Linked DNA regions of Homo sapiens. The protein of the gene in region 5 purifies or fractionates together with the protein of the main gene of each other region. This does not show direct contact. Each region holds a gene or a part of one and is shown on either strand. Other genes may lie near its edges.

Region 1 (4,997 bases), on a different chromosome or scaffold from region 5:
AACATTTCTGGCTGGGCTCTGTGGCTCACAACTGTATTCTCAGCACTTTGGAAACCCAAGGCAGGAGGATCCTTTGAGGCCAGGAGTTTGAGACCAACCTGGGCAACATAGCAAACCCTGTCTCTACAAAAAATTAAAATATAAAAACTTATTTGAGCCTGGTTGCACGTACCTGTAGTCCCAGCTACTCAGGAGGCTGAGACAGAAGGATCACGTGAGCACAGGAGGTCAAGGCTGCAGTGAGCGATGGTCGCATCACTGCAATCCAGCCTGGGCCACAGAGCAAGATACTGCCTTCAAAATTAAAAAAAAAGAAAAACAGGCCAGGCGCAGTGGCTCACACCTCTAATCCCAGCACTCTGGGAGGCTGAGGCAGGCAGATCACGTGAGGTCAGGAGTTCGAGACCAGCCTGGCCAACATGGTGAAAATTAGCCAGGTGTGGTGTCGGGCGCCTGTAATCCCAGATACTTGGGAGGCTGAGGCAGGAGAATCACTTGAACCCAGGAGGCAGAGGTTGCGGTGAGTCGAGACCACACCATTGCACTCCAGCCTGGGTGACAGCGTAAGACTCCGTCTCAAAAAAAAGAAAAAAAAAAAAAGAAACAAATAGCACTTCCAGCCAGGTGCGGTGGCCTGCTGCAACACAGCAAGACCCGCTTTCTAACAGCAGCAACAGCAAAGCACTTCCCGGATAAGGCCCTAGGCTACTACTGGTGTCTCCCACTTCCCAGGGCGCTGTGCACGCACACATTTTAAGGACAAGTCTCGTTTACCACATAAAGTTTTTATTGAACTCAAACTCAGGGGCTCCAAAGCCTGAGGAAGAAGAGGGAGGCTGGGGTTTGCACGCAGAGGCCCAGGCCCCACCCCGGGGCCCCACTCCCCACCCCACCTACCTTTTACCCGCTCCTGACTCAACGAGAGTTTCAGCAGCTACCAATCTAAGCTAACCCACTCTAATTAGGTAATCCCCTGCCCTCCCCCCTCCCTGCTCTAGCAGTTGCCAAGCCAGGCACCCACCAAGGAGCCGCGGCTGAGGCCAGCCCTCCGCTGACCTCTCTCCATTTCTCCCAGGGCCTCCCGCTGCCGGCCTGGCCTCCCTCCAACCCACTTCCCACAAGTCTCCAGGGCATGTCACTTCCTCCACCCTGGTTCTCTTCTTCCAGCATCCTCAGCTCCTCCATTCTCCTGCGGCTTCTCCACTATCCTCCCTAAAGGTTCCTCTAGCTCCCTGGCCCCTTATCTTCTGCCCACACCTCCCACCCCTGCTGGGGCCCCAGGTCAGCGCCGGCCCGCCGCGTGGGTCCGCTGGTGGCGGATGAGGTCGGAGCTCTGGGAGAAGGCCTTTCCGCAGTCATCGCACTTGTAAGGCCGCTCGCCACTGTGGACCCGGTGATGCTGCAGAAGCGTGGAGGAGCGGCAGAAGCCCTTGCCGCACACGGCGCACCTGTAGGGCCGCTCGCCCGTGTGGGAGCGCTGGTGCTGGATGAGAGTGGAGGAGCGATTGAAGGTCTTGCCGCAGTCGGGGCAGCTGTAGGTGCGGCCTGGCAGGTGGGTGCGGGCGTGGATGGCCAGCACCGAGCTCTGGCCAAAGCGCTTGCCGCACTCAGGGCACTTGAAGGGCTTCTCCCGGGCGTGGCTGCGGGCATGGGGGATAAGGGCCGACCGCTGGGAGAAGCTCTTGCCGCAGATGCCACAGCTGAAGGGCCTCTGACCGGTGTGCACCCTCTGATGGCTGCGCAGGGACGAGTTCTGGCTATAGCACTTGCCGCACTCGGTGCAGCTGTAGGGCCGCTCGTGGCTGTGGGTGCGCTGGTGTCGCAGGAGGTAGGAGCTGTCGCCGAAGGCCTTGCCACAATGTGGGCACTTGTAGGGCTTCTGGCCAGAGTGAGTGCGCTGGTGGCGAAGCAGGTAAGAGCTGTCGGCGAAGGCCTTGCCGCAACGGGGACATTTGTAGGGCCGCTCGCCAGTGTGGGTGCGCTGGTGTTTGATGAGGTCAGAGCTCTGGGAGAAGGCCTTGCTGCAGACCTCACATTTGTAGGGCTTCTCACCGGTGTGGATGCGCTGGTGCTGGATCAGGGTGGAGCCCCGCCCGAAGCTCTTCCCGCAGATGCCACAGATGTTAGGCCGAGGGCCCTGCCCACCCCTGGCCCGGCCACCCCGCCGACCTGGACCTCGAAGGGCTCCTGTGAGACCCAGGGGATTCTGAAGCATCTCAAACTGCGGTGTAGACAGCAGGGCCCCTGTGGGCATCTCAAAAGGTGGCCCTATGGGCAGGTCCCCTGTGGGCTGCTCCCCAAACCCCTGAGTGAAGGAGTCCAGGGGGTGAACTCCTACGGAGATATTCAAAGGACTCTTTTCCTCGGGGTTCAGAAGCATCTCCGCACCTTCCTGGAATTTGGAACTTTGAGCTTCAAATTCTGGGCTTTGGGTTTTGAGCTCAGTGTTCTGGGATTCATATCTAGAGCTCTCAGATTCATAGCCAGGGCTCCGGGGTTCATACCCGGGGCTCCGAGGTTCATAGCCAGGGCTTTGGGGTTCATACCTAGGGCTCTGGGATTCAAACTCAGGGCTCTGAGAATCTGATTCAGGGCTTCTGGGTGCAAACTCAGGGCTTGGGGGCACAAGCCCAGGGCTTCGGGACTCAAACCCCGGGCTTTCAGGCTCAAATCTGGGGCTTTGGGGTTCAAACTCTGGGCTTTGTGGCTCAAACCCAGGGCTCTGGGGTTCAAGCCCAAATGGTATCTCTTCGACTTCATAGTCCCCACTGCCTTCTTGCTGAGAAATTTCCTCTTCCTCATTCTCACTCATGTTGCCTGCAGGATGAGAGAATCCAGATCGTGTGAGACCTGGAAGGTCATTTGGTCCATTAGCAACCACACACCTCCCACCTCACATGCAGGGTCGCTGGCCCCTAGACAAGTGCTGAAATTCCCACGCCCCCCTCAGCTGACCCAAGACACCCCAGTCCCCGCCGGCCCCTCCTTCGAGTCCCAGGTGTCCCAGCCCCGGGCCCTCGCTCCCTCCCTGGAGCCACAGCCCCTTCTCCTGCGCGCAAGTCCACTCCTCGGACGGGCGCTCCCTCCTCACCTCTGAGGTACCCTTCGGGGCTCCTCATTTCGTCAGAACTCTGCACATCCTGGGGCTCGAGGCCCCACGGCAACGCCTCCCGCTCCATCCCCGCGGGCTCCCAGTGCAGCGGCGGCGGCGATGGCGGCCGATCCCGCGACCCGGCCTCGGTTGCCCCGAGCCGCGGGCCCCCGCCTCCCGCCCGCTCAGCGCCGCCCAGGGGACTCGGCGGCCCAGCCCGGGCCCCCGAGGCCGGACGTCTTGACCCCGCGCCTCTCCAGCGCGCCGGGCCCCTCCCCTGCCCGCGGCCCCGCCCCCTCCCAAGGTCTCGGCCTCCCCGTGGCCCTCACTGGCCCCCGCGCGTCGCGGCCTCGGGGATGAGGGGCTTCGCGACTACCCCGGCGGCCCCCGGCCCCCGCTCCCGCCCGAGCCCCCACCTTCTGGACCCCGGCCCCGGGCTGGGCTGCACTGTCCAACGGCCGCCCAGCACCCCCCCACCCTCCCCCGCACAGGAAGTGTCCGTCCGCGGCCAGGTCCCCCCGCCGGCTCGCGCCGCGGCCTCTCTAGGAGCCGCTGGAGGTGGAAACTCGTTGGCATTAACCCTGGGCTGGAGGGGCCCGGCCACGGGGTGGGTGAGGACCGGACGCCCCGGAGCCCGCGGGGCTACCGGGGCAGTGTGTGTGCCTATGTTCTAGGTCTCCGTCCCTCCAGAGGCCCGTCTGTCCATCTCCCGGGCCCCGCGTCGTCGGTGCGTGTGGCCAAGGGCGAGGCGACAAGCGAGACCAAGGTCAGCGAGAAGGAGCGACGCTTCCCGGCGCCAGCGGGGGCGGTGTCTCGCTCCCTCCCCTCCCGGGCCTCCGGGTCAGCTCCGGCAGCGCCTCGGGAACCGGGACGGACTCCCCTTGGCCTCGCCGAGGTCCTTGAGCCTGGGACCCCCTCCAGGAACTCCGCTCCCCGGCACCTGCGCGCGCCCGCTCCCGTTCCTCCGGCCCCCACCCAGCTCGGCTCCCCTGATCCTCCTCCTCCCTCCTCCCTCCTCGAGGGCTAGGATAGTTGCCAAGGAGACAGCCCCGCCCCGGCTCCCAGAGGCACAGCTTCTCCGCCCCAGGAAGCCCGGCGGTTGGCCGATGGGGCTCGTGCTCTAGCCGCCCCGCCTCCTCCAACCCCGCGGACGGCTGGGCGTTAATGGTCGCCAGGGAACGCCAGGCGCCTTCCTGATTGGCCGGGAGTGCTGTGGTCGGGTCCGCCTCCCCTGTCGGCCAGAAGCGCCTTCAGGAGGTAGTGGGAGGGAGGTGCCAGGCATCTCCCCTCCAGCCCGGCCTGTGCCATCAAAACTTTTCCCGCCCCCACTTAGCCTCCATTATGTTTTATGAAAGCCAGAAGATCTGAGGACAGACACCCTTCCTCCTCGTCAGCCTCACACCCCTTGCCTCTCCCCTCCACCTTCCCCAGCGCCTGAGTTTAACTCAATCCCTGGCAGCCTTAGTCCCTGTTGTTAGATTTCCTCACAGGGAGGCAGGATTCCTTCCAGGTGAGGGTGATACAAAGGAGAATTGGACTGAGAGAACCATCTGGCCTTCGAGGCATCTAACAACTCTCCAGTCTTGTCTGACTCGAATGGAGTCTTGCAGAGGAAGGGAACCTGAGAAACACTGCCTCGGGCGCAGCTTTGAATTGAGGAAGTGAGCCTGGACAGACAACTTAATATCATCCAGTTCTTGTCTTTTTTTTCTACGCTTCGTGCTGAAACAAGTTTGGCAGCGTTCTTGACAGTTAACGAGCCCGATGCCCCTGTGTGAGCAGGAGCCATGGATCGTGTTTTCTTGTCGCCTACCCAGACAAATGAAGGGAAGAGAATGTTTGGGAGGAAGGATGGCCTCTCCTTCCTGAAAAGAGGTGAGAACAAGAACTTGAAGAATGCCAAGTG
Region 2 (4,465 bases), on a different chromosome or scaffold from region 5:
ATGTCTACAGATGTCGGGCGCGGTGGCTCACGCCTGTAATCCCAGCACTTGGGGAGGCCGAGGTGGGCGGATCACGAGGTCAGGAGATCGAGACCATCCTGGCTAACACAGTGAAACCCCGTCTCTACTAAAAATACAAAACATTAGCCGGGTGTGGTGGCGGGCACCTGCAGTCCCAGCTACTTGGGAGGCTGAGGCAGAATTGTGTGAAGCCAGAAGGCAGAGGATGCAGTGAGCCGAGATTACACCACTGCACTCCAGCCTGGGAGACAGTGAGACTCTGTCTCAAAAAAAAAAAAAAAAAACAAAAACTGTCTACAGGAATCAGGTGTTAATACACTTAGAAATATTAGGATAAGCTATTCACAATCCAGGAAAAAGATTTAGATACCACTTAAAAATATTTCCAGAATTATCTAAGGCCCAAAAAAGTTTTAAAATTCTGGATACCACTTAAAACATACAGGAAACAAAAAGTCTATATTAAGAAAAACACCTCAGTATAGTCACCCTGATGAAGGTACAGAAGTCAATTCTAGAATTTAAAAGGACAAACAGGTTATTGTTTAAAAAAGATACAGCAAGAAAAACAGACTTCTCACTACTTAATGCTCATTGATCAACACTTGTCATCAACATTATTTATTTTATTATTAAAACATATGAGGTTGGGAAGAGCCATTCCAAGTAAATACAAATATTCTAAAATATACATCTTCCAAGATTCAGCACTTCTTACATTCATCACAGTAACTGTTTCCACAGCAGGGAATCACAACAGCATCAGTCATAATATCCTTGCAGATGAGACACAACAATTCATCTGGGATAGGATCATCTTCTTCTGAGGAAGAAGATGGCTCCTCTGGTAAGAAGGGAGGTTTCTCTTTCTTCCCAATTGCATATGCTTCTCTGTAAAAGAAAGTTTTCATGTTTTACCATTGTTAAGAAGGCAGAGTACTCATGCTACATGTTCTACTATAACATAATGGGAACACATAATTCAGCGCAATGCCAAATTAGTTTAGACAAGCACCATATCTTCTAAAATAAGGGAGTAATTATGTACAACCTAACCCTAAACAAAGACACAAAAGTCTAAACAAGCATAACAAAAAGAAGCAAAGAAATGCTACAAAAACAATAAAAGGATCTTAGAACCCGTCACTCTTAAGAACTGAGGGCCAGAAATAAAGCGAAATGTTCTGTGCCATAAAGTTCTATTTAAGTGACAAAGACAAGACTTGAATTTAGACAACACCATAATCACAATTTTTCCTACTCTATCAAGTTTCTTGAAAAAAATAAAAATGAAAATTAAAATTAAAAATCCCAAAAAATCTCCCCTTCTCCATAACCCAAAAGTCTCTCAAACCTGTGAAGGTATTGGAGTAAATGCCACAAGACGGGAAATTAAAATTAGTACTGACATTATACAATTAAGGAAAGATAGTTCAAGGGAAATATTATGTCATTACCACACAAATAATTAATAAAATGAGATACCAAAACCCATGATCTACTTATTAGTATTTTAAGAGAGGTTAATCAATTTATAGTCAATTAAGAAGCATTAGTGACTTAAATGATCAAAATCGGTGTTACAAAAATGTAAAGTAACACCTCATTAGACATTCTAGGTCCAGTTTTTTGTAGAAATGCATTTTGCAGAAATGTTGGGCATTAAATATAGTATTAAAAAATAAAAATAGCTATTCTCAGACTTGTCACCACTGCTTCTACACCCCCATCTTCTCTGTAATCAGGCAAATTTGCAAAACACAGGAATCCCTAGAGAAACCCTTTCTATTTCATTCAGGAACAGAGTGTGTTTATCTCAATGCTGAAAATGAAAGAATCTCGGCTGTACAGAGTAGGGTACCTTAGGTGTGTTATTTGTGTTGCAGTTGCTCCATAGACATCACCACGATTCCAGAAATAAGTATCAATTTGCTTATGCCCCATTGTTCCCAATTTGTGAAAGAGGAGTCTCCCACTGCCCAAAAGAGAGAAAAAAGAAAAAAAAAAAAAAGAAAAAAAGAGGAGAACAGAGGATAGAAAAAGAAACAGAAGAAGAGTCTGAGTTGCTTATCAGTGGTGTTAGTGAAGAGGGTGAAAGTTTCATTTAAAATATTTAGATTCCCATCTTTCCCCAGTATTTGCTGTGTGTCTGGCACAATTGGGCATTTGTATTTCAGCATTCAAAAGCAATGAAGTTAATTATTAGTTAGGGTTTACAGGTGATACTAATTTTTCCAACACAAATTTTTACTTAAAAATTTTACATAATATAGATGAAGCGGTCTGCTCTTAATTGTGTCTGTAAAAATAATCAATTTCAAGCTAAAGTTATTTGGAAACATCTATGAAATGTCTCTGAATTAGAAACAGCATAACAACAGACTGTTCAATGATGAACCACAAAAACACAGGATGGTGACTGATAAAAAATAGATGGGGGTGAAGTTGAGGAAGTGAGCAGGGTTGGGAGTTTAGGAAAACATTCTTATCTGTGAACGAAAACACTATTTGCTGAAGTACATATTCAAAAACACAAGATCTTTTCAATATCATTCTATGGCATAGCTATTTTCATCATCATCCCCACCTGCTCACTACACTACACTTCAACAATATTTATAGCATGAAGCTGAGGAACTGTTCTTATATATGTATGTATTTTTTCACTGAGAACATGAACACCTAATTCTGTAAATTGATGCCCTGAGGATCCCCTAACTTCACAATCTCTTGGACAACCTGTTAAAAATGTAGAATCAGGGTCTTATCACATAACTTCTAAATCAAAATTGGGGGCGGAGCAACCAGGATCTTTTTTTTTTTTGCCCAAGGTCCCTCTACCTGGCCAGCCTTTTAACATACTTTTGTAGGAAATTCTTATGCTCAACAAAGTTAGAGAACAGCAGTCCAAAGAACACTTAATATTATGCTGTATAGTATGTGAGATCACAACTGTTGAAGGTAATCAAAAAAGTAACTGACTACATTAATAAAAGCAGATAAAATGGGAGGTTATCTAGTTGAACCCTGCCACTGAATTTTCATGTCTGTCCATTTCATTAAAAACTGGTTCATAATATAAAATCTGAATACACATTAAAAATGGGCATTAAGGGCCAGACGTGGTGGCTCATGCCTGTAATCCCAGCACTTTGAGAGGCCGAGGCGGGTGGAGCACAAGGTCAGGCTAACACGGTGAAACTCCGTCTCTACTAAAAAAATACAAAAAATTAGCCGGGCGTGGTGGCGGGCGCCTGTAGTCCCAGCTACTCAGGAGGCTGAGGCAGGAAAATGGTGTGAACCTGGGAGGTGGAGCTTGCAGTTAGCCGAGATTGTGCCACTGCACTTCAGCCTAAGGGACAGAGCGAGACTTGGTCTCAAAAAAAAAAAAAAAAAAAAAGGCATTAAGGTGTTTTATAGAGCTATAGTTGATCTGAACTAGTGGTTTATAAAATAAACCTTACTTGAGAATCTTAAGACTCACATGGCATATCCAAACTTATTCAAGCTACTTCAGTATTTCATTTATGCCTGACACTTAAATTTGCCTCAACATCATGCAGAGCTTTTATTCTTAAGCCTCCTGTTTCTCAAAATGATTACAATCTGTTTTGTTCACTTAAAAATGCAAGTAGCATATATAATAAGATTATGTGGGAGTATGTATGTGAATGAGGAAGAAAGCAGGGAATGACAGAAAAAGAAAAAATTAGAAGACTACAAGGGAAGTGGCACTCACTGGTAACAAAAAATCCCCAAATCCATTTTAAATTTGCTTTAAATGGAGCAGACTGCAGCCTCACAGAAATGCAAGATGTAGAGACTAATGGCTTTGGTATACAAAGTTCTCAAGGAATCCAAGTAGCAAAGTTACAAGCCCAAGATTAAAACACTATACCCTGGGACTGACTGGAGTCTCCACAGGTCATACCTAATTTGCATACTTACGCATCTATAGTTGGTATTGCATATTTTCCAGTGTTGGTAAGCATTGCACCTTTCATATTAGGATCTTTCACTTCCATCATGAAACTTCTGGGAATTCCAGTGCTCTTTTTAATCCTAGGACCAGATTCAAAGTTTTTATCCTATTCAGAGGAAAAAGGAAGAGGAGGAGGAAGAGAAAAAGCAGTTATCTTTATTTAATAAATTAGCTAATGTTATACAGTGCTTACTATATTACTTGTAGTGCTTTACATATGTGATCTCATTTAATCCTTGTAACTGCTATGTGAAGTACGTACTATTTTATCTCCATTTTAGAGAAGAAAAAACAGGCTTATAGAGATCAAGTAACTTGCCCAAACTCAGCCAAGTGCCAGAACCAAGATTTGAAGCCTGGCAAATTTGGCTCCAGAGACCATGCTCATTTGCCATTGTCTACAGAAGGCAGTATTAACCAAGAAAAATAAGATAGCTAAGGAACAATTCCAAAGGAAAAAAA
Region 3 (4,465 bases), on a different chromosome or scaffold from region 5:
CTGCCCGAGGACAAACAACAGGGGCCAGTGAGTTAGTGCTCCCAAAGCAGCCCCCAACCAGTGACGGCTGGGAAGCTGGTGAGTAAGCACGCCAGCGTCCCACTTGGGATCCCGAAGAGGTTCGCTCCATAATGGGACTGTGAGTTCTCCCAGGACATGAAGCTCAGGGTGGTGACTTGCCCATGGACGCACGTTGTATTGAATTCTTGCCTTTCCCATCTCAGTTCCATACTTCCCTACCGGTGTTTCCTGGGAGGAATACCCAAATAAACTGCGTATCCTCACATCCATGTCTTAGGATCTGCTTCTATAAAATGCAGTGACAGACCCCCACTCCCACTTTTAGCTCCTTCCCCTCACTGGGTGTCAGAGCCTCCTGAATGTTGTTTCCCCAGAAAGTCACTTCCTGAGCACCCTTTCTGTGGTTACCCAGGCCACCCCATTCTTTTTCTCTGAGCATTTACACCATTTGCAATCATGTTTTTTTGTTTGTTTTTTTGTTTTTTGTTTTTTTGAGACGGAGTCTTGCTCTGTTGCCCAGGCTGGAGTGCAATGGCGCGATCTTGACTCACTGCAACCTCCGCCTCCTGGGTTCAAGTGATTCTCTGCCTCACCCTCCTGAGTAGCTGGGATTACAGGCGCCCACCACCACACCCAGCTAATTTTTTGTATTTTTAGTAGAGATGGTATTTCACCATCTTGGCCAGGCTGGTCTTCAACTCCTGACCTCATGATCCACCTGCCTTGGCCTCCCAAAGTGCTGGGATTACAGGCGTGAGCCACCGCGCCCAGGCTGCAATCATGTATTTATCTCTGCAATTCTTTGGTCAATTTCTGTATTCCAAGTTGAGCAATATGATAGCCAGAGTTGAGTTAATCCTGTGCACTGCAATAACCCAGCCCCAAGCATAGGACACAGATGAAATGAATAAATGTGGGTGTGTGCACGTGGCCATGAGTAAAGGTGAGACACTGGGAAGTCTCCTGGGGTGGGCAAGTGTGTGAGTCGGGTGAGCTTCCCCTCCCCTTACCCAGGGCTCTGTAGGCAGGCACAATGGTGACCGTGATGGGCTCCGCAGTCCCCCTGGTCTGGATGGTGAAGACGAGAGCATCGGGGACTCTCTGCTCCATCCTCAGGTCCTCGAGCCCGAGGTCCAGCAGGTCCTGGCTTTGCCACATGGTTTTCCATATCAGCCTCAGAACATCTTTGTGATGCTTGGCTGCCTCCTGGAAGCTGTGGAAACAGCTCAGAAACGCCACCAGCTCCACCTCTCTGGTGCTCCTGAGAACCGTGCCATTCCCGAAGGAGCCCACCTGCAGAACACAGAGCCCCGTCACCCTGAGGCCCACTGCCATGAGCCAGGCAACCCCTGCGGCACTTCACATGCACTGTCTCACTGAATGCTCACCACCCGCTGAGGGATGGGTTGTGGGTAGTACTAATACCCACACTTTACAGGTGAGAAAACTGAGATGTCTGGAGGATCTCGAGACATGGGATGGAGAAATGGGGCAGCCTGAAAAAGATCTTGACACTTCCCTGTTTCTTAGCTAGGTAAATGTTCTGACTCCTAAGACCTTCATCTCTAAAATGAAAGCAATGGCAGAATATGAGTCACTGGGCTACTGGGAGGATCAGATGAAATAATGTATGCCAAGGGTTTGGTGGGGTGCCTGGCACACAGGAAGTCAGCAACACATTTGTCTTTCTCCTCATTAGTCATTTGTCTCAGGTCTCGCAGTTTGCAGCCCTCAGAGCCCAGACTCTTTTTTTTTTTTTACACAGGGTTTCACTCCCGTTGCCCAGGCTGGGCTGCAGTGGCATGATCTTGGCTCAAGCAATCCTCCCACCTCAGTCTCCCAAGTAGCTAGGACTACAGGCCTGCGCCACCATGCCTGGCTAATTTTTGTATTTTTTGTAGTGACTGGGTTTTGGCATGTCGCCCAGGCTGGTCTCGAACTCCTGGACTCAAGCGATTTGCCCCCTTGGCCTCCCCAAATGCCCAGCTTCTTATCTACTACACTGCATTGCTTCTGAGACCCAGTCTTCTTACCCACAGAGTAAGGCCTACTCCAGAGGAATGGTAGCATCTACTCCATAGGGTTGTTTGAGGATTCTGGGGGTGGTGGTGGGGCTGAATAATTTCATGACATTATAAAGCAAGGAGCAAGTTTGCCTGGTGGATTTAAGAGCCATAGGCTGTGAAATGGAGCAGCCTGAAAAAGATCTTGACTCTTCCCTGTTTCTTAGCTGGGTAAACATTCTGACTCCTGAGACCCTCATCTGTAAAATGAAAGTAATGTTGGAACAAGAGTCACTGGGCTACTGGGAGGATCAGATGAAATAATGTATGCCAAGCGTTTGGTGGGGTGCCTGGCACACAGGAAGTCAGCAATACATTTCTCTTTCTTCTCATTATCCAGCTGACTTAGACAATCTCTTCTGCTGCCGGGGGGTCAGTTTTCCTGTTAGTAATGGAAGGAGGTCGAGAAGGGATTTTTCGATGTTTTGAGATTCTAGATGAGCTCTCCAGGCCCTGGTGCCTCTGGTATGCAAAGCGCCACAACTCTCTGGCCTCCTCTCCTTCTCATTCTGTGTTGGGAGGTGGAATTGCTAGGGAGGCATCAGACCCCCAGAAGGCTACTTTTCTTGGTGGTTGGAGTCACTGCACAAGAATCAGATTCCAGCTGTTGCCGGATGATATAACATGCCCTGTGTGACATGAGCACGGATGCTGGATGACATGAGCACGCCCTGTGTCTGGCACCCATAAGAGCCCTGTATACATATTATTCCTTTTAATCTTTACTTCCCAGCCAGGCATGATGGCTCATGCCTGTAATCTCAGCACTTTGGGAGGCCAAGGTGGGCGGATCATGAGGTCAGGAGTTCGAGATCAGCCTGGCCAACATGGTGAAAGCACATCTCTACTAAAAATACAAAAATTAGCCAGGTGTGGTTGTGTGCACCTGTAATCCGAGCTACTGGGGAAGCTAAGGCAGGAGAATCGCTTGAACCCAGGAGGCAGAGGTTGTGGTGAGCTGAGATCTCGCCACTACACTCCAGCCTGGGCGACACAGCGAGACTCCATCTAAACAAAACAAAACAACAAAAAAAAACGCCTTCACTTCCTGTATTGAGGTGGGTACTAGGAGAATTATCTCCAATGTACAGATGAGAAGACTGAGGCAGTGAGGAGCTTGCCATGGTCTCCCAGCCAGAAGGCAGCAGAGTCAGAGAAAGAGCCAGAACTCAAGTAGGGGATGGTTCTTCCGCCTCTTTCTTCCTCGTGACCCAAGGCTGTGAGCCAGGCCCTGCTTCCAAGGGACCATGGGCATTCAGACCCAGCACCTCCACCCCCTGGGAGAGGGTTGGAGATGGCACCCTGTGTGTGAATGAAGGACACATTCCCCCCGAAGGCCAGTCTAGACTTCCCTTTCTTTTTGAGACAGGGTCTTGCTCTGTTGCCCAGGCTGGAGTGCAATGGCACGATCTTCACTCACTGAAGCCTCGACCTCCTGGGCTTAAGCAATCCTCCCACCTCAGCCTCCGGAGTAGCTGGAACTACAGGCATGCACCGCCATGCCCAGCTAATTTTTTATATATATTTTTGTAGAGTCGGGGGTCTCACCATTTTGCCCAGGCTGGTCTCGAATTCCTGGGCTCAAGCAATCCTCCCACCTTGGCCTCCCAAAGTGCTGGGATTACAGGCGTGAGCCACTGTGCCTGGCGTAGACTTCCCTTTCTGCCTTTCCCACTGGTAAGATCCAGGCAGAGAGAAAAGAACACATCCAGAACAGGCTTCCTGATTTGCTTCAGTTTTAAACCTATTTAAGCACAATTCATTTGAAGACGAGCATTCCCTTATGTGGACCAGCTCCGCTCACTAGATTTTCAGAGGGTGGGGAACGGGAGGGTTTAGACTCTAAATAAGATATATTATTCCTCATTAGTCATGGCTCACTGGGGATTGCTACCATTTAGTGGTTTCAAGAGGAAAAGTGGCTATGATGTGCAGGAAGTATTTGAGGCTTAGGTAAATAGCATTTCCTGCCGTAAAAACTCATTCTTGGCCGGGCGTGGTGGTTCACACCTGTAATCCCAGCATTTGGGGAGGCCGAGGTGGGTGGATCACTTGAGGTCAGGAGTTCGAGACCAGCCTGGCCAACATGATGGAACCCCGTCTCTACTAAAAATGCAAAGATTAGCCAGGCGTGGTGGAACACACACACACACAATAAACTTATTCTTGTAGCATCCTCCTCTTACCAGACATTCCTTATTCCCTCCACTTTATTCTCAAGTTTGTTGGGGAGGGGGTGGTCTAGGAGGGTCTGCCAGAGTCAGACTTGAGTCCCAGGCCCAGAAGAAAGCTTGGCAAGAATTATAATGATGCTTCTGTTTCTGAGCATTTATCGTGCATGAATCATTCAGCCTGCATTGCACCACTGGCTTGGTGAGGGA
Region 4 (2,542 bases), on a different chromosome or scaffold from region 5:
GCCACACTGACTTGACTATTGGCAAAGTTGGCAATAATTTCATTTCCAAGCCCTCTGCTCTCTTAAACATGTGCTTGGCTGGGCACAGTGGCTCACACCTGTAATTCCAACACTTTGTGAGGCCAAGGCAGGAGATCAACTGAGGTCAGGAATTCGTAATATGCCTGGCCAACCTGGTGAAACCCTGTCTCTACTAAAAATACAAAAATTAGCTGGGCGTGGTGGCACATGCCTGTAGTCCCAGCTACTCGGGAGGCTGAGGCAGGAGGGTTGCTTGAACCCGGGAGGCGGGGGCTGCAGTGAGCCAAGATTACACCACTTCACTCCAGCCTGGGTGAAAGAGTGAGACTCCATCTCAAAAATAAAATAAAAATAGTATCTGTACAGAGCCCGATGTGGAAGAAGCTCAGCTAGTGTTAATCGTTATGACTATTACTACTTACATTAATAAGCCAAACTTACAACTATACTTTATGAGACATACTCTAGGCACCACAGAGTTCTCTTTTGCTAAGCAAAGATTTAATAGTGAACAGTGTTAATTATACATTATATACAATATCAGGAAAAAAAAGAGTTGTAATTTTTGAGGAAAATCGCTTCAGCCTTTTGAGGCCTCCTTTGACATACCAGTGGTTGACAAGACAGAATTAAGAACAGTTAAAACAGTTAAAAAGCTGATAAAATTAAATCATCAAAGGTAGAAAGTTTTCCAACAGGAAAAAAGCCACTGAAGTTAACAGTCTTGTGGAAAAGAACAGAAGAAAGAATAGGGCCAGGTATGGCGACTCACGCCTGTAATCCTGGCACTTTGGAAAGCCCAGGTGGGAAGATCACGTGAGGCCACGAGTTCAAGACCAGCCTGGGCAACACAGTGAGGCCCCATCTCTAGAAAAGATAAATTAGCCAGGCATTTATTAGCTTGCCTGTAGTCCTGGCTACTTGGGAGGCTGAGGTGGGGAGAACTGCTTGAGCACACGAGTTCAAAGCTGCAGTGAGCCAAGATCACACCACTGCGCTGCAGCCTTAGTGACACAGCAAACTCCATCTCAAAAAAATAATAAGTAAAAGAATATAGTTATAAAGACGGTAGAGATTAATTTCTTAAGAAAATAATGCAGCTGATTAGGGGTACTGTTTAACCATCTGTAATGGCTTCTAAACAAATCTTTGTCAAGTGGTTCCTAAGCCAAAACTTCAACAGTTCTGCTTCCTTGGCTTTGGCTCTGCAGAAGTGAGTGACCATCTGTTCCACCATGAAAATGCAAAAGCAAAATCTACATGCTAGAAAGTAATGTCAACCAGAACCTCTGGGGAAACAGTTTAATGGTCTTTTCCAATTAAGAATAGAATTTCTTTTCTTTCATAGCTAAAATTAGAATTTTTGCTTAATCCAAAGAAAGATAAATTAATCAGGTTCCAAAGATAGGAGACCTTAACTATAATCCCAAATTTTTAAAGTTTCTCTTAGTTAAATGCAGTATTTAATGAACATGGCTGGTGAGTTTCGTTCTCATGACGTATCAAGATGGCAAGAGGGTCACAGCCTGAGAGAGAATAATTTCACAGGCTCTTTAAAGTAAGTATTAATTAAGAATTGGTTAGCAAACCTTGACAAGGGCTAACAAAATTTGGAAAAACAGCAATGATGAAAAAACAAATGTCAAAAGGTGTTAGCAGATTGTTTAGTTTTGTTTTCATGTCATTTTCCTGTTAATTATACCCAAAAGACATGATTAAAACATACACCTGTTTCCTAAGATTTATACAGGACCAGGTTTCCTTTAATTAAGTCCATGTGGATGCATAGTCAGAATCCATGTGCAATGAATGCTTCTGTCATAGTGCTAAGGAAAGGTCTCCACATTTCTCAACAATAGTATCTTTCCTTCCTCATTTTGTAGGTTAAGAAGCCAACAATCTCTCTCCCAGCACTTTCTGAGACTCATTTATCAAAGGTAGCTTGTAGGTAGTTTCAGAGTGTATGAAACACTGTAAATGAGGTCACTAAGCCACCAACAGAGTACTGAAGCTATTGATCCATGCTAGAGATTTCTGGGATTACCTCTGGGGTTTGTTGTTCCCCTTTCTGAACATGGAAGTAAAAATTATAAATGTGTTCTGCTCCTTTGGAATGCCTGGAAGGGAAAAATCAAACATTCTTTTATCTCAATGTAAGTAAGGCGTATGTCTTTGACAGTTGTGGATGTTCGTGGAAGAGTGCGATGACCTTCCTGTCTTTTCCCTTTACATCACACTGAAACAAACTGTCCTTATAGTTAACAGAACGTTAGAGTTGGAAGAAACTTTAAATGATCTAAACTTCTCAGCCTGTGCTTAAGTGCCTGGTGTGCAATACAGCCACCAGGTGATTATTCAGTAAGTCTCTTTAAAAGCAGTATCATAAAGCAAAGAAACCAACCAAAATCTCCCAACTTTTGATTCCAGAAGAGTACAGAATTCTGAGCACAGGTACCTAACATCCATACTATTAAGAATCATTACTTGCTAGAGAGCACAGGAGTAATTACTACAATTACTT
Region 5 (4,465 bases):
CTCCCACCCACCCCTGCAAGTAGCCAGACTACAGGAATATGCCACCACACCCGGCTAATTTTTGTATTTTTTATAGAGACGGGGTTTCACCATATTGCCTAGGGTGGTCTCGAATTCCCAAGCTCAAGCAATCCGCCTGCCTCAGCCACCTAAATTGCTAGGATTACAGGTATGAGCCACCGCACCCAGCCTCCCATTGCGTTCTACTTGTTGATTATGATTAGGCTAGGAAACCATGTATTTCAAGACTACATAAAGGGATCCCAGCATCTCTCTCAGAAAGCCTGATCTCTGAATAGGGTGCAAATATGTAAAATAACTTGCCCAGGGTCATAGAGTTTATCTTGCCTTTCTGAATTATAAATTGTGAGAAAAGGGCCAGGTGTGGTGGCTCATACCTGTAATCCTGGTACTTTGGGAGCCTGAGGTGGGAGGATCACTTGAGACCAGGAATTTGAGACCAGCCTGGGCAACAAAGCGAGACCCTGTCTCTACGAAAAATTTTTTAAAAAATCAGCCAGGCGGCTGGGCGCAGTGGCTCACACTTGTAATCCCAGCACTTTGGGAGGCTGAGGCAGGCAGATCACTTGAGATCAGAGGTTTGAGACCAGCCTGGCCAACCTGGTGAAACCCTATCTCTACTAAAAATACAAAAATTAGCTGGGTGTGGTGGCGCGTGCCTGTAGTCCCAGCTACTTCAGAGGCTGAGGCAGGGGAATCGCCTGAACCCAGGAGGTGGAGGTTGCAGTGAGCTGAGATCGTGCCACTGCACTCCAGTTAGCCAGGCGTGGTGGTGTGTGCCTGTAGTCCTAGCTACTTGGGAGGTTGAAGTGGGAGGATCACTTGAGCTTGGGAGGTTGAGGCTGCAGTGAGCCGTGACTGCACCACTGCACTCCAGCCTGGGTAACAGAGCCAGGTCCTGTCTCACAAATAGACAGATAGAGAAATAGAAAGGAGGGAAACCAGGGATAAATAAATAAATAATAAGGGAAACCAGGGGATGAGTCCAGTAAATTTTGAGAAGAGATAAACAAGGACCTTCCTGACCTGTGGCTACTATAATAGGAGGTAGCAGTCTATAGAGTAAACTCTTATTTATTGAGCATCTACTAGGAATTGAAATTTTACCTCACAATACCCTTAAGAAGTAGGCATTATCTCTACTTTATGGGGGAAGTTCACAGAGGTTAAGTGACTTGGCCAAACTCACCCGATCAGTAAGACACACAGCCAGCTTTGAGCCCTAGTCTGCTTAACTTCTCTTCCCATGATGAGATGGTACTCCTGAGGGATTGGGGGTTGCTTCAGCATAATGCTCATATTATTTCTGAGCCAAAAAGCACATGTGATCACCTCTCAATCACAGCAGACATTTGGAAAGGTGTTCCTTCTGCTTATTTATGCAAAACATTCAAGTGCTGAACTTAGTTCTTTTCCTTGGCCCTCAAGAAAGCAAGCAGCCTGGCTTCTTTCCATTTTCTCTTGTCTTGCTCTAACAAACCACTAGGCGGTAATATGTAATACCAGCTCCATTACTGAGTCCCTACTATGTGCCAGGCTCTGAATTGGGTGCTTTTTATAAATCTGCCCTCAATTTTAGTTCTAAAAAATCCTGAAAGGTAGTTGATATTACCATCCTCATTTTTATAGAGGAAGAAATCAAGGCTTTGTGAAGTAATAGACTTGCCCGAGTCACACAACAGGGCCAGGATTTGAAGCCAAGACAGTCTGACTTGTTCACCACACCAACCTGCTGGCTGGCTTCATCATGAAGCAAGTGGGCTCAATATGGCAGCTGTATTACCTGATCTGAGTCTAGCTTCTTCGTTTCCCCCTTTAATGTCTCCATTCCATGGATTGCTAGGTATCTCTTCACTTTGTTGGCATGTTTTTTGCTCTGCAAAAACCCAGGAGAAAGATCAAAGATAGCCAAATGCTACTTCATACTTAAGGCACTCAAAAACACTTATGAGATTTTCATCTGATTCATCCTCACAAAAAGTTTTGAGGAGGAGGTGAGGGAAGTTTGAGTTCCTGCTCTGTGCAAGGCATTTTACAGCTACCAAATTTAATCTTCACAATCTATGAGAAAATTATGACCATTTCTATTTTATGGATGAGGAAACTACATCTAAAAATGATGAAGTTTCTTGCTCAAGATGAGTAGCAGAGTTTTGATTTAAAGTCAGATCTATTTAAAGCCAAAGCTCATACTTTATGCTATGCCAAGCTGCAAGGGAAGATACACATATAATGATCCTGATTTGGATGGGGGAGATGAGACTCAAGGAGATTAAGTCAATCTTCAAGTCACAAGCCAACATGCATGGAGGCAACATCTGGGTGGCTAAGCAGCAATTACACTTCACCATGCAAGCCAGAGAGAATTAGTGGTTTGGCACCAGGTCTGAAAAGAAACGCAGTTCTAAAAGTATGATGGCATACCTGGTAATGTGCCAGCTTCTGGGACTCAGAAATAAGCAAGGCGCAGCAAACCTTACACTGGGTGTTGGTGAAGAGACATTGGTTCTTCTGGATCATGTGCTCCACTATAGAGGGGAAAACAAGAAATCATTGAGTTGACAAACACTACCTCAACAGCACTGCCTTTGAACCCTGCCTCAAACACAGGCACTGAATGATGGGATGCCATACTAGGACACTGGCAGACCTCAGCCAGCCTTTCCTACTGCCACCGTGACTCATGCTGTGTTCTCACACCACCTACACTATTACTTATTTTATAATTTTATGTATGCCAACTTTCTTTACTTAGGAACTTCTTTTAAAAAGGAATCTTTAGATCATAAACTTAAGCAGATACCAATAAAAATAAATATGATAAAAATGAGGCTTGGAGCATTCCCCAGGAAGAAGAGAACAGCAACTGTGCTGAGAGGTTTTAAGATATGGTAGCACCCAACTGAAACTTCTTCCCAGATAGAATCAGGAGGACTGAAAGACTCGAAAAAGGAATACTTTTCTCATTGTTCTTGATCTGACTTTGAAACATTTAAAATCACATAACAGGGTGGGGCGTGGTGGCTCACGCCTGTAATCCTAGCACTTTGGGAGGCCGAGGTGGGCAGATCACCTGAGATCAGGAGTTCGAGACCAGCCTGGCCAACATGGTGAAACCCTGTCTCTACTAAAAATACAAAAATTAGCCAGGTGTGGTGGCAGGCACCTATAATCCCAGCTACTCGGGAGGCTGAGGCAGGAGAATTGTTTGAACCCAGGAGGCAGAGGTTGTAGTGAGCTGAGGTTGTGCCACTAACTCCAACTTGGGTGACAGAGCTAGACTCTGTCTCTAAATAAATAAATAAAATAAAATCACATAACGTATTATATAAGTGCCACACTATATGAAACATGGTATTAACCTGTGCTTAAATTATTGTGCCTGGAGAACAGTCTTACCTTTTTGAGAAGAGAAGAGGAGGTAAAATCTCTCCCAAGGCATAAGTTCATTTTTGTTTGTTTTTTTTTTTTTTGAGAGGGAGTCTCGCTCTGTCACCCAGGCTGGAGTGCAGTGGCATGATGTCGGCTCACTGCAAGCTCCGCCTCCCAAGTTCACACCATTCTCCTGCCTCAGCCTCCCGAGTAGTTGGGATTACAGGCACCCACCACCACGCCCAACTAATTTTTTTGTATTTTTAGTAGAGACGGGGTTTCATCGTGTTAGCCAGGATGGTCTCGATCTCCTGACCTCGTGATCCACCCACCTTGGCCTTCCAAAGTGCTGGGATTACAGGCGTGAGCCACCGCGCCCGGCCAAGGCATGAGTTCTATCATGGCGCTGGCAATGTGAGGCAGAGGCAGAGGCAGAGTCTAAAACTGGGAGAGGAGGGCAGGCCCACATTTTTAATCTCCTGGTCTCAGCCAAAAAGTGGTCAAGGCTAGGCACAGTGGCTCACACCTGTAATCCCAGCATTTTGGGAGGCTGAGGTGGGAGGATGGGTTGAGCCCAGGAGTTTGAGACCAGCCTGGGCAAGATGGTGAGACTCTGTCTCTACATAGAAACAAACACACCAACAAACCAAAAACTAGCCGGGGGTGGTGGCACATGCCTGTGGTTCCAGCTTCATGGGAGGCTAAGGCTGAGACAGAGACAGAAGGATTGCTTGAGCTCAGGAGGTCAAGGCTATGGCAAGCCATGTTAGTGCCACTGTACTCCAGCCTGGATAACAGAGCAAGCCCCTGTCTTAAAAAAAAAAAAGTCGATGCCCTGGAAGAGGTTCTTGGTGGGGAGCTTTTAAGATGTCTCTCCTTAATCCACAAAATCTAAAGCTTACCTATGTCAGCCCTTTTAGGCAGAAGGGCTGTATTTCTGCCCCTAATGATCTCTTTTTATTTCTGCATTTTTCTTTTAAATGGTAAATTTTTGTGAAAGACCTTGCCTGTCTTAGCTATGCTCTGAAAAACCAAGAGAAATGACTCTATAAACAAAATTGGCCCAGAACTT
Region 6 (4,465 bases), on a different chromosome or scaffold from region 5:
ATTATAATAATATGGTAAAGACAAATGTTTTTCAGTTGTTTTTTTTTTAGATTCAAATTCTATGAAGATGAGCTAAGAAAGCGGAACTTCTACCCTAAAAAGCTTTTCGAAAGTGTATGTGAAGTTGGATACAGTTGTGCACGCCTATAGTCCCAGCTACTCGGGAGGCTGAGGTGGGAGGATTGCTTGAGCCTAGGAAGTCAAGGCTGCAGTGAGCTATAATTGTGCCACTGCACTTTACCTGGGCAAGAGAGTGAGACTGTGTCTCAAATATAAAAAAAGTGCACGTGTTAAGTGCTTAAAACATCATTTGAAAAATGCTAATAGACATGCTAATTAAAAGGCAGATACTGTCAAAATGGATAAAAATCCAAACCCCAATTACATACTGTCTATCAAAGCCATAATTTAGACATAAATAAGAGAGGAAATGGATGGAAAAATATACATACCATGAAAACAATAAGCCTGAGAAGGCTGTAGCAGCTTTCGTTTTTTTTTTTTTTTTTTTGCGATGGAGTCTCACTCTGTTGCCCAGGCTGGAGTGCAGTGGTGCGATCTAGGCTCACTGCAACCTCCCGCCTCCCAGGTTCAAGCAATTCTCTGCCTCAGCCTCCTGAGTAGCTGAGATTAAAGGTGCCTGCCACCATGCCCAGCTAATTTTTTGTATTTTTAGTAGAGATAGGGGTTTCAACATCTTGGTCAGGAGAATGAGACCATCCTGGCTAACACAGTGGAACCCCGTCTTTACTAAAAATACAAAAAATTAGCCAGGCATGGTGGCAGGCGCCTGCAGTCCCAGCTACTCAGGAGGGTGAGGCAGGAGAATGGAGTGAACCCGGGAGACGAAGCTTGCAGTGAGCCGAGATCGTGCCACTGTACTCCAGCTTGGGTGACAGAGCGAAACTCCGTCTCAAAAAAAAAAAAAAAAAAAATCATACAGGCAGCTGGTTGTGGTGGTTCATGCCTGTCATCCCAGCACTTTGGGAGGCTGAGGTGGACGGATCACCTGAGGTCAGCAGTTCAAGCCCAGCCTGGCCAACATGGTGAAACCTCATCTCTACTAAAAATACAAAAATCAGTTGTGTATGGTGGTGTGTGCCTGTAATCCCAGCTACTCAAGAGGCTGAGGCATGAGAATCGCTTGAACTTGGGAGGCAGAGGTTGCGGTGAGCCGAGATCGCGACACTGCACTCCAGCCTGGGCGAAAGAGCAAAACTCTGTCTCCAAAAAAAACAAAAAAACAAAAAACAAAAAAACAAAAAAAACCCAATACAGGGCAGGGCATGTTCTTTGATCATAGAGCAGTAAGTTAAAAATCAATAATCATTAGATATCTAGGAAAACCCAAACACTAGATAAACTTTTAAGTAATTCATGGATCAAAGAAGAAATCAGAAAACAAATTAACACGGATTAGTGGACATTTAAAGATTTATATACTCATGTTATAAAGAAAGCAGGATTAAAATAAATGATTTAAGATTCCACTTTAAAGGGTTTGAAAAAGAACAAAGAGGCCAGACACAGTGGCTCACACCTGTAATCCCAGCACTTTGAGAGGCTGAGGCAGGTGGCTCTCCTGAGGTCAGGAGTTGGAGAACAGCCTAGCCAACATGGCAAAACCCCATCTCTACTAAAAATACAAAAATTAGCAGGGCGGGTTGGGGCACGCCTGTAATCCCAGGCTACTTGGGAGGCTACTTGGGAGGCAGAGGCACAAAAATCTATTGAACCCAGGAGGCAGAGGCTGCAGTGAGCTGAGATCACACCACTGCACTCCAGCCTGGGCGACAGAGTGAGACTCTGTCTCAAAAAAAAGAAAAAGAACAAAGAAAAGCTAAACTAAGTAGAGGGAAGGAAACGATAAAAGAAAAAGAAACTTGGCCAGGTGTAGTGGCTCACACCTGTAATCCCAGCACTTTGGGAGGCCGAGGCGGGCAGATCACGAGGTCAGGAGATCGAGACCATCCTGGCTAACATGGTGAAACCCTGTCTCTACTAAAAAAAAAAAAAAAAAAAAAAAAAAAAAAAAAATTAGCCGGGCGTGGTGGCAAGAGCCTGAGGCGACAGAGCAAGACTCTGTCTCAAAATAAAAGAAAAAGAAAAAGAAAAAGAAACTGAATGGCTGGGCGTGGTAGCTCATGCCTGTAATCCCAGCACTCTGGGAGGCAGAGGCGGGTGGATCACCTGAGGTCAGGAGTTCGAGACCAGCCTGAACAACAAGGAGAAACCCCATCTCTGCTAAAAATACAAAAATTAGCTAGGCATGGTGGTGGGCACCTATAATCCCAACTACTCAGGAGGCTGAGGCAGGAGAATTGCTTGAAACCAGGAGGCGGAGGTTGCATTGAGCTGAGATCGCACCAGTGCACTCTAGCCTGGGTGACAGAGTGAGACTCCGTTAAAAAAAAAAAAAAAAGAAAGAAAAAGAAACTGAAGGGCCTTGGGGCTTGGGCCACATCTACCCTACCTCATTTGCTGCAGCTGCCATGGGAGTCGGATGGTTGACCGCATCACCCAGCGCAATGGCTAAGCGGAGATCCTTCTGAATGTATTTCAGGTAGAAATCAGGCTTAAAGTTTCCTTGCAGGATATCTGAGGAGAAAAAGCCAGTATCAGACAAAAGCCAAGGACCTGAAACTAAAAACTACTTACGGTCCACCAGGTGTCAGTACCTAAAACATACTCAGGGCTCAGTTCCACATAGCCTAGGCCTCTTGGCTCCTCACTCACCCTTAGACACCTGAGGGCTGCAGCTCCCAGCCTATATCCCCAAATCCCGCCCACTGTGTTTCTGAACCTCCTCTGGCCAGGGTCAGGGACTGACTGGGGAGGGGCATCTTTCACGCTCACTAAATCCCTGACCTAGTACCCTGCTCTAATCAAACACCAAATGCAAGAAGAGGGGCCAAAAACAACTCACTTTGGCACTTCTGGTCCAGGAAGATGCTGGCCAACTGTCCCTGATTGAGGATGTCCAAGAGTGTCTGCTGGGACTGGCCTGTCACCTGGGCCAGGGTCAGCCCCTCGGCAATAGTGGCCATGAAGCTCCCTTGGACCATGTTCACGATCAGCATCATCTTGGCTGCATTGCCCACTTCACCTGCCCAGGGTAAAGACTCACGGTCACAGCCCAAGAATGCCACAGACAGGGCTTCTCTGTCCACCCTCACCTCTGCTCAGACCCACCTCTCTCCAGGGGAGGCCCCCTTCACCTGCCCCCGACAGACTGGCTCTTCCTCCTTCCACGCACTGACTATGCAGGTGAAAGGAAACCTTCCCCAGGGTCCCCGGCAGAAAGGCCGTGTGGGACTGACGCTGTCATCAGTGTGAAACAGAGGAGATGTGGCCCCAGGCTCCAGGCCTGACAGGTGCAGGCGTGTTACCTAGGAAGAAGGAGGTCTTCCCCATCGCCTGGAAGCAGCTGCTGCAGTCCTCATATAAGCCCCTGTCTCCAGCCGCTAAGATCACCAACATCCCGTCATTAGACAGCTGCTGATTCCCTGAGACGGGGGCTTCCAGAAAGCGCCCCCCCCTGGACACAATCACCTGGAAAGAAAAGTCACAGCTTCTGGAGGCCTCCCCTCTCCCAGCGCTCTCTGGGCAGGACTCAAGGAGTGTTGCTGAGTGGCCACGGCTGCTCATCACCTTCCAGAGCTGGAGGGGACGGCCACCCATACCAAGGTCCTTTAGCTGACACCTAAACTCAGGAGCTAACCATGTGCAGGTCACACAGGCCGAATCACAGCAGTGATGAGACGCTGGGGTCTCCACACAGGAACCCAACTGACTTGGAATTTTTTTTTTTTTTTTGAGGTGGAGTCTCGCTGTCGCCCAGGCTGGAGTGCAGTGGAGCGATCTCGGATCACTGCAAGCTCCGCCTCGCGGGTTCATGCCATTCTCCTGCCTCAGCCTCCCGAGTAACTGGGACTACAGGCGTCCACCACCACGCCTGGCTAATTTTTTGTATTTTTAGTAGAGACAGGTTTCACCATATTAGCCAGGATTGTCTTGATCTCCTGACCTTGTGATCCGCCCGCCTCGGCCTCCCAAAGTGCTTGGATTACAGGAGTGAGCCACCACGCCTGGCCGGAATTTTTTTGTTTTGTTTTTTTGAGACAGAGTCTTGCTCTGTTGCCCAGGCTGGAGTGCAGTGGCGCAATCTCAGCTCACTGCAAACTCTGCCTCCCGGGTTCATGCCATTCTCCTGCATCAGCCTCCTCAGTAGCTGGGACTACAGGCAACCGCCACCATGCCTGGCTAATTTTTTTTTTTTTTTTTGAGACGGAGTCTTGCTCTGTTGCCCAGGCTGGAGTGCAGTGGCACGATCACAGCTCACTGCAAGCTCCGCCTCCTGGGTTCATGCCGCTCTCCTGCCTCAGCCTCCCAAGTAGCTGGGACTACAGGTGCCCGCCACCGCGTCCGGCTAATTTTTTTGTATTTTTAGTAGAGATGGGGTTTC
Region 7 (4,465 bases), on a different chromosome or scaffold from region 5:
TGAAAGTGAAAACATAATAGCTTGACTAGCATGGCAGAATTAAACATTAAGGATTCAGTAATTATTTAGGAGGTAAAAAAGAAAAAAAACAACAGAATGGTGATGTATATCTGCTATCATGTGATGCATCTTTTCATGCACATATTTTACTTATATAGCTATCTTTAACAAAATAAAGTCATGCTATACATATTGCTCTATTACTTGCTTATTTTCTACTATTAACAATATATCATAACTCTTATATCATTAAATAAAAAAAACACTCACCAATTTTCACATAAGGACACAAGACAGAGAATTCCTGTTACATGTAATTTTGACTTCTGGGTTCCAGCAATAAAAATCCACTACTTAATGGTAAGCAATAGATATTTTTCACAAAGAAATGTACCTCACATATGTAACACAGAACAACTCCAAGAAACCTCCACCCCAGAAACGAATTTTAAAAACAACCAGACAAATACAGACTGCCTACCTCTGTTTCCTTTTCTTCAATAATATTTACAAGTCCTAAGAAAATATTTTGTAGTTTGATCAAAAATGGTTCTGGATAAATTGCCCAATCTTCCCATGCTCTGAAGCAAGTCATTACCCGTTGCTAAAGAAACAGGAAACAGACAACAAACTTTTATTTTGGGCTATATGTCTCAAATTTCAGTTCATGAGAATGATCATCAAGATTTGCTAAATTTGCCTTTAAACTGATGTTTTTTTAAACTTTAAAGAAAATAACTATATATCATTACCATATTTTTTAAAAAAATCAATGTCACCTTCTAATTAAAAGGAAAAAAACCCCTAAAAATAAATATAATGAAAAATAAACAGTAACTATTTGCTCTTTACCACCTAAGGTCAGCTCCCATACCATTAGTACTACCCATGAGCCACATTCCAGAAACACTTACATAGAAACTTACTAAAACTGGAAACCAAAGTAGCCAAGTTTTGACCTGAATCCCTTATGGTCCAATAAAGTACTTCCTAATTCTGGCTAATACTTTACTCTGTATCTTCCTGAAACTTGTCTTTAAATTCTAACTTATGGTCAAAATTTAAGGTCAAAAACTTTTAAAATGGGAGTTGTCTGAATGCCCTAAATGGTGGCGTCACTGGGCATCTTCCGAAACTAAAAATTTTTCTTAAAAAAGTCTTCTTCCCATGAAAGCATATTTACTTATTCAATTATAAGTGAAGTACTACACTTGGCTTTTCTTAACACTGGTCTAGAGCTTAAGAGGTTATAAAAAAATTGGTAACAGAATAGACTTTCTAAACATGATTAAAATGTATGTCTTTAATCCAGCCAAATAGTATATACCATTACAAAACAAGTGATTCTTCTGTATGTTTTATGAAAAAAGACTAACATTTATAATTTTTAAACAATATTTAAAACTAAAATTAAACCTGACAAAATAGTATCTTTTAAATTTTTGATTTGATAAAAACAAAAACGACAGAATTTTAAAACAGTAACTTCTGTAACATCTAAGTTTTAAATTTATGTCTCATACTTGTCTTATGCACTTTTCTAGCCCTTCAATGCCCTCCCCCCACCCATTTAAAACACTAGGGCAAAAATAGTAAAACAATAAACGTACCTTAAAGTTTTCAGATTGTAAATGGCCTTGAATTGTACGATAGGTGGCATTGAGGTCTGAAAATATCTGACATAACTTTGTTTCAAAACTGAAATTCAAATAACACATTCTTTAAAATAAAATGTTTAAAATTCCTTTCCCTTTTAGCATGCCAGCCAATGAAAACCCCTCCTGAACTTAAAATACTTACAAATCAAGAAATTATTAAAAATCAAAAACTAGGTGTTTAAACTCTAAAACCGTAACTGAATTGCTTGAACTCTTATTACTCTGAATTTTTCTCCTACAAACTCCCCAACAGTCCCTACTAGTTCCCTTTACGAGCAAGAAACGTTATATCTAGGATATGCTGAACCATCTCGTCCAATTTCTTTATTTTATAAAACAGAAAACTTAGAAAAGTGACTCGTCCAAGGCAAAAAAACTAATAGCAGACCTAAGAGTAGGATCCAGCTCTCTAAATTTCTTTTCAGAGCAACATCCTAGGGAAAAGCTTCCCTTTGCCTAATTCATAAAATAAACACAGAAAGAGAGCTCTGGGGAACAGAGGAAAAGTTATACTTTTTTTTTTTTGAGATGGAGTTTTGCTCGTCACCCAAGCTAGAGGACAATGGTGCCATCTCGGCTCACTGCAACCTCCGCCTCCCGGGTTCAAGCGATTCTCCTGCCTCAGCTTCCCGAGTAGCTGGGATTACAGAGGCACACCACCACGCCCAGCTAATCTTTGTATTTTTACTAGAGATGGGGTTTCACCACGTTGGCCAGGGTGGTCTCGAACTTCTGACCTCAGGTAATCAGCCCTTCTTGGCCTCCCAAAGTGCTGAGATTACAGGCGTGAGCCACTGTGCCCAGCTGAATTATACATTAATTATAATACAGCAACGTAACTTCCTTTTGCCTTAGGAAACATTTACAATGAACTAAAATCAATATGCTGAGGATCAGAAGAGAACACAGATTCTATAGTTAATAGTATGTCTTTGGTCTCTTATGTTTGCCAGTATATACACTGTTTCTATTTATTATATGAATAGCTAGATATGCAATAAAGTTCTCTTTAACACCTATTTGTTATACTGTCAATAGCTAAGAAAGTGATATGATATAAAATCTTTCCAAAAAATTGGTAATTTAGCTTAAGTGTAAGCCAATTTTTTAAAAAATTCTACAAACCATTAAGAAATTCAAATTAGTCTTCCCTCAGTATCCATGGGGGGACTGGTTCCAAGACCTCCCATGGACACCAAAATCCACAGATGCTCAAGTTCCTGATTGAAAATGGCATAATATTCACCTGTAACCTATCCTCATCCTCCCATCTGTTAAATCATCTCTAGGTTACTTACAATACCTAATACAATGTAAATGCTATGTAGAGTTTTCATACTATATTGTTTAGAAAATGACAAGGAAAAAAGTCTGTACAGGTTCGGTACAGATACAATTTTTCTTCTCAAATATTTTCAATTCATGGTTGGTTGAATTCATGGATAAGGAACCCACAGACATGGAGGGCTGACTGTACTTCTTATTCTTGCAGGATGTTAACAAAACAATCCTCTTTTCTGAACTCCTTACCCTTAAATACTTTATTTCAGGAATATCAGTTATATCATTATACTTACAATTTTCTATAATATGAAGCATTAGCAACTTTGGCTGAAGAGTTGTACAAAACATCAGAAACCAAATATAATCTGGCAATCTATAATATCAAAAGATAACACAAAATAGGTTAATATAAGGCTAATGTTTAGCTATAATTTAATTATGGCTACTAATTAGAAGAGTTATATGAAGCTCAGTATCACCACAACTATGACTCTGGCAGAGATGAAATTTGTTAACCCATTTACATTTCAACTTGTTTGTTAACTTGTATGTTAATGAACCTAAATTTCCAAGCAGAAATAACATAAGACTGCATGGGAAAAATCTCATCAGTCAAGTGCTTTGTGCAAAAAGGAAACCAATTCTAATCCCAAAAGACGTCAACTATCTCCCCTTTTCTTAAAATTCATTCCCATACCTTTTTAGGAAGGGGTGTCTTTAAGATGGACAACGACTCAGTAATGCAATCCACTATTTCTTCAGCAGCTTCAGCATTATTAAGACAGAAAACCATTGCATCTCCAATATCATTTTTCCTTGGAGTTAATCCCCGCAAGATTTCTTCCAATTTATCCCTCTGTCTGAACATAAATTGTTTTAACTTATAAATATTTAGATACAATTTCAAATGCCATTGTAGCTTTTGCTCACAAACTAATTTCTTTAAAACCTACTCACATAAAATAATTCTGAAGACTGTAATACATTCAGTCTGATTTGTGTTGTGTCCCCCAAAATTGTTACAATTTTTTGAAGAATTTATATAAGAATACTCTGTAGAATAAGATTCCAATTATGTTTTCAGCTTACAAATTAAGTAAATTTAAAATCATACGCATTTCTTCAAGCGTCTTTAAGAGCACCCCAGTCTTACCATCCCATGATACTGAAGAACTTTCATGTTCTTTACTCCCCTTCTTTGAAGGAAGTCTATTACTTTAACACTTCTGCCTGGGATTACGACAGGCTAATTTTTTCTGTAAAGGAAAAGACTGGCTGGGTGCGGTGGCTCATGCCTGTAATCCCAGCACTCTGGGAGGCCAAGGTAGGCGGATCACAAGGTCAAGAGATCAAGACCATCCTGGCCAACATGGTGAAACCCTGTCTGTACTAAAAATATAAAAATTAGCCAAGTGCAGTGGCAGGCACCTATAATGCCAGCTACTCGGGAGGCTGAGGCAGAAGAATTGCTTGAACCTGGGAGGCAGAGGTTGCAGTGAGCCAAGATCGTGCCACTGCATGCC

Evidence for each region.
Region 1: the proteins of ZNF346 (region 5) and ZNF768 purify together in Homo sapiens (co-immunoprecipitation; 2 studies listed by BioGRID and IntAct, with this or other methods). This does not show direct contact.
Region 2: the proteins of ZNF346 (region 5) and RBBP6 purify together in Homo sapiens (co-immunoprecipitation; 2 studies listed by BioGRID and IntAct, with this or other methods). This does not show direct contact.
Region 3: the proteins of ZNF346 (region 5) and OASL purify together in Homo sapiens (co-immunoprecipitation; 2 studies listed by BioGRID and IntAct, with this or other methods). This does not show direct contact.
Region 4: the proteins of ZNF346 (region 5) and HP1BP3 purify together in Homo sapiens (affinity purification with mass spectrometry; 2 studies listed by BioGRID and IntAct, with this or other methods). This does not show direct contact.
Region 6: the proteins of ZNF346 (region 5) and GLYR1 purify together in Homo sapiens (co-immunoprecipitation; 2 studies listed by BioGRID and IntAct, with this or other methods). This does not show direct contact.
Region 7: the proteins of ZNF346 (region 5) and U2SURP purify together in Homo sapiens (co-immunoprecipitation; 2 studies listed by BioGRID and IntAct, with this or other methods). This does not show direct contact.

Annotation. Positions count from the first base shown.
Region 1 is NC_000016.10:30,523,235-30,528,231, forward strand, and holds ZNF768 (zinc finger protein 768), read right to left. Parts: upstream 3,333-4,997; 5' UTR 3,180-3,332; coding exon 3,092-3,179; intron 2,818-3,091; coding exon 1,283-2,817; 3' UTR 770-1,282; downstream 1-769. UniProt on the Homo sapiens protein: Binds to mammalian-wide interspersed repeat (MIRs) sequences in euchromatin and promoter regions of genes at the consensus sequence 5'-GCTGTGTG-[N20]-CCTCTCTG-3', consisting of two anchor regions connected by a linker region; the linker region probably does not contribute to the binding specificity.
Region 2 is NC_000016.10:24,555,952-24,560,416, reverse strand, and holds part of RBBP6 (E3 ubiquitin-protein ligase RBBP6), read right to left. Parts: intron 4,110-4,465; coding exon 3,970-4,109; intron 913-3,969; coding exon 740-912; intron 1-739. UniProt on the Homo sapiens protein: E3 ubiquitin-protein ligase which promotes ubiquitination of YBX1, leading to its degradation by the proteasome.
Region 3 is NC_000012.12:121,032,430-121,036,894, forward strand, and holds part of OASL (2'-5'-oligoadenylate synthase-like protein), read right to left. Parts: intron 1,315-4,465; coding exon 1,032-1,314; intron 1-1,031.
Region 4 is NC_000001.11:20,739,766-20,742,307, forward strand, and holds the end of HP1BP3 (heterochromatin protein 1-binding protein 3), read right to left. Parts: 3' UTR 501-2,542; downstream 1-500. UniProt on the Homo sapiens protein: Component of heterochromatin that maintains heterochromatin integrity during G1/S progression and regulates the duration of G1 phase to critically influence cell proliferative capacity.
Region 5 is NC_000005.10:177,039,210-177,043,674, reverse strand, and holds part of ZNF346 (zinc finger protein 346), read right to left. Parts: intron 2,550-4,465; coding exon 2,446-2,549; intron 1,898-2,445; coding exon 1,805-1,897; intron 1-1,804.
Region 6 is NC_000016.10:4,808,697-4,813,161, forward strand, and holds part of GLYR1 (cytokine-like nuclear factor N-PAC), read right to left. Parts: intron 3,553-4,465; coding exon 3,390-3,552; intron 3,107-3,389; coding exon 2,927-3,106; intron 2,599-2,926; coding exon 2,474-2,598; intron 1-2,473. UniProt on the Homo sapiens protein: Cytokine-like nuclear factor with chromatin gene reader activity involved in chromatin modification and regulation of gene expression. Acts as a nucleosome-destabilizing factor that is recruited to genes during transcriptional activation.
Region 7 is NC_000003.12:143,032,121-143,036,585, reverse strand, and holds part of U2SURP (U2 snRNP-associated SURP motif-containing protein), read right to left. Parts: intron 3,803-4,465; coding exon 3,640-3,802; intron 3,316-3,639; coding exon 3,236-3,315; intron 1,699-3,235; coding exon 1,611-1,698; intron 605-1,610; coding exon 482-604; intron 1-481.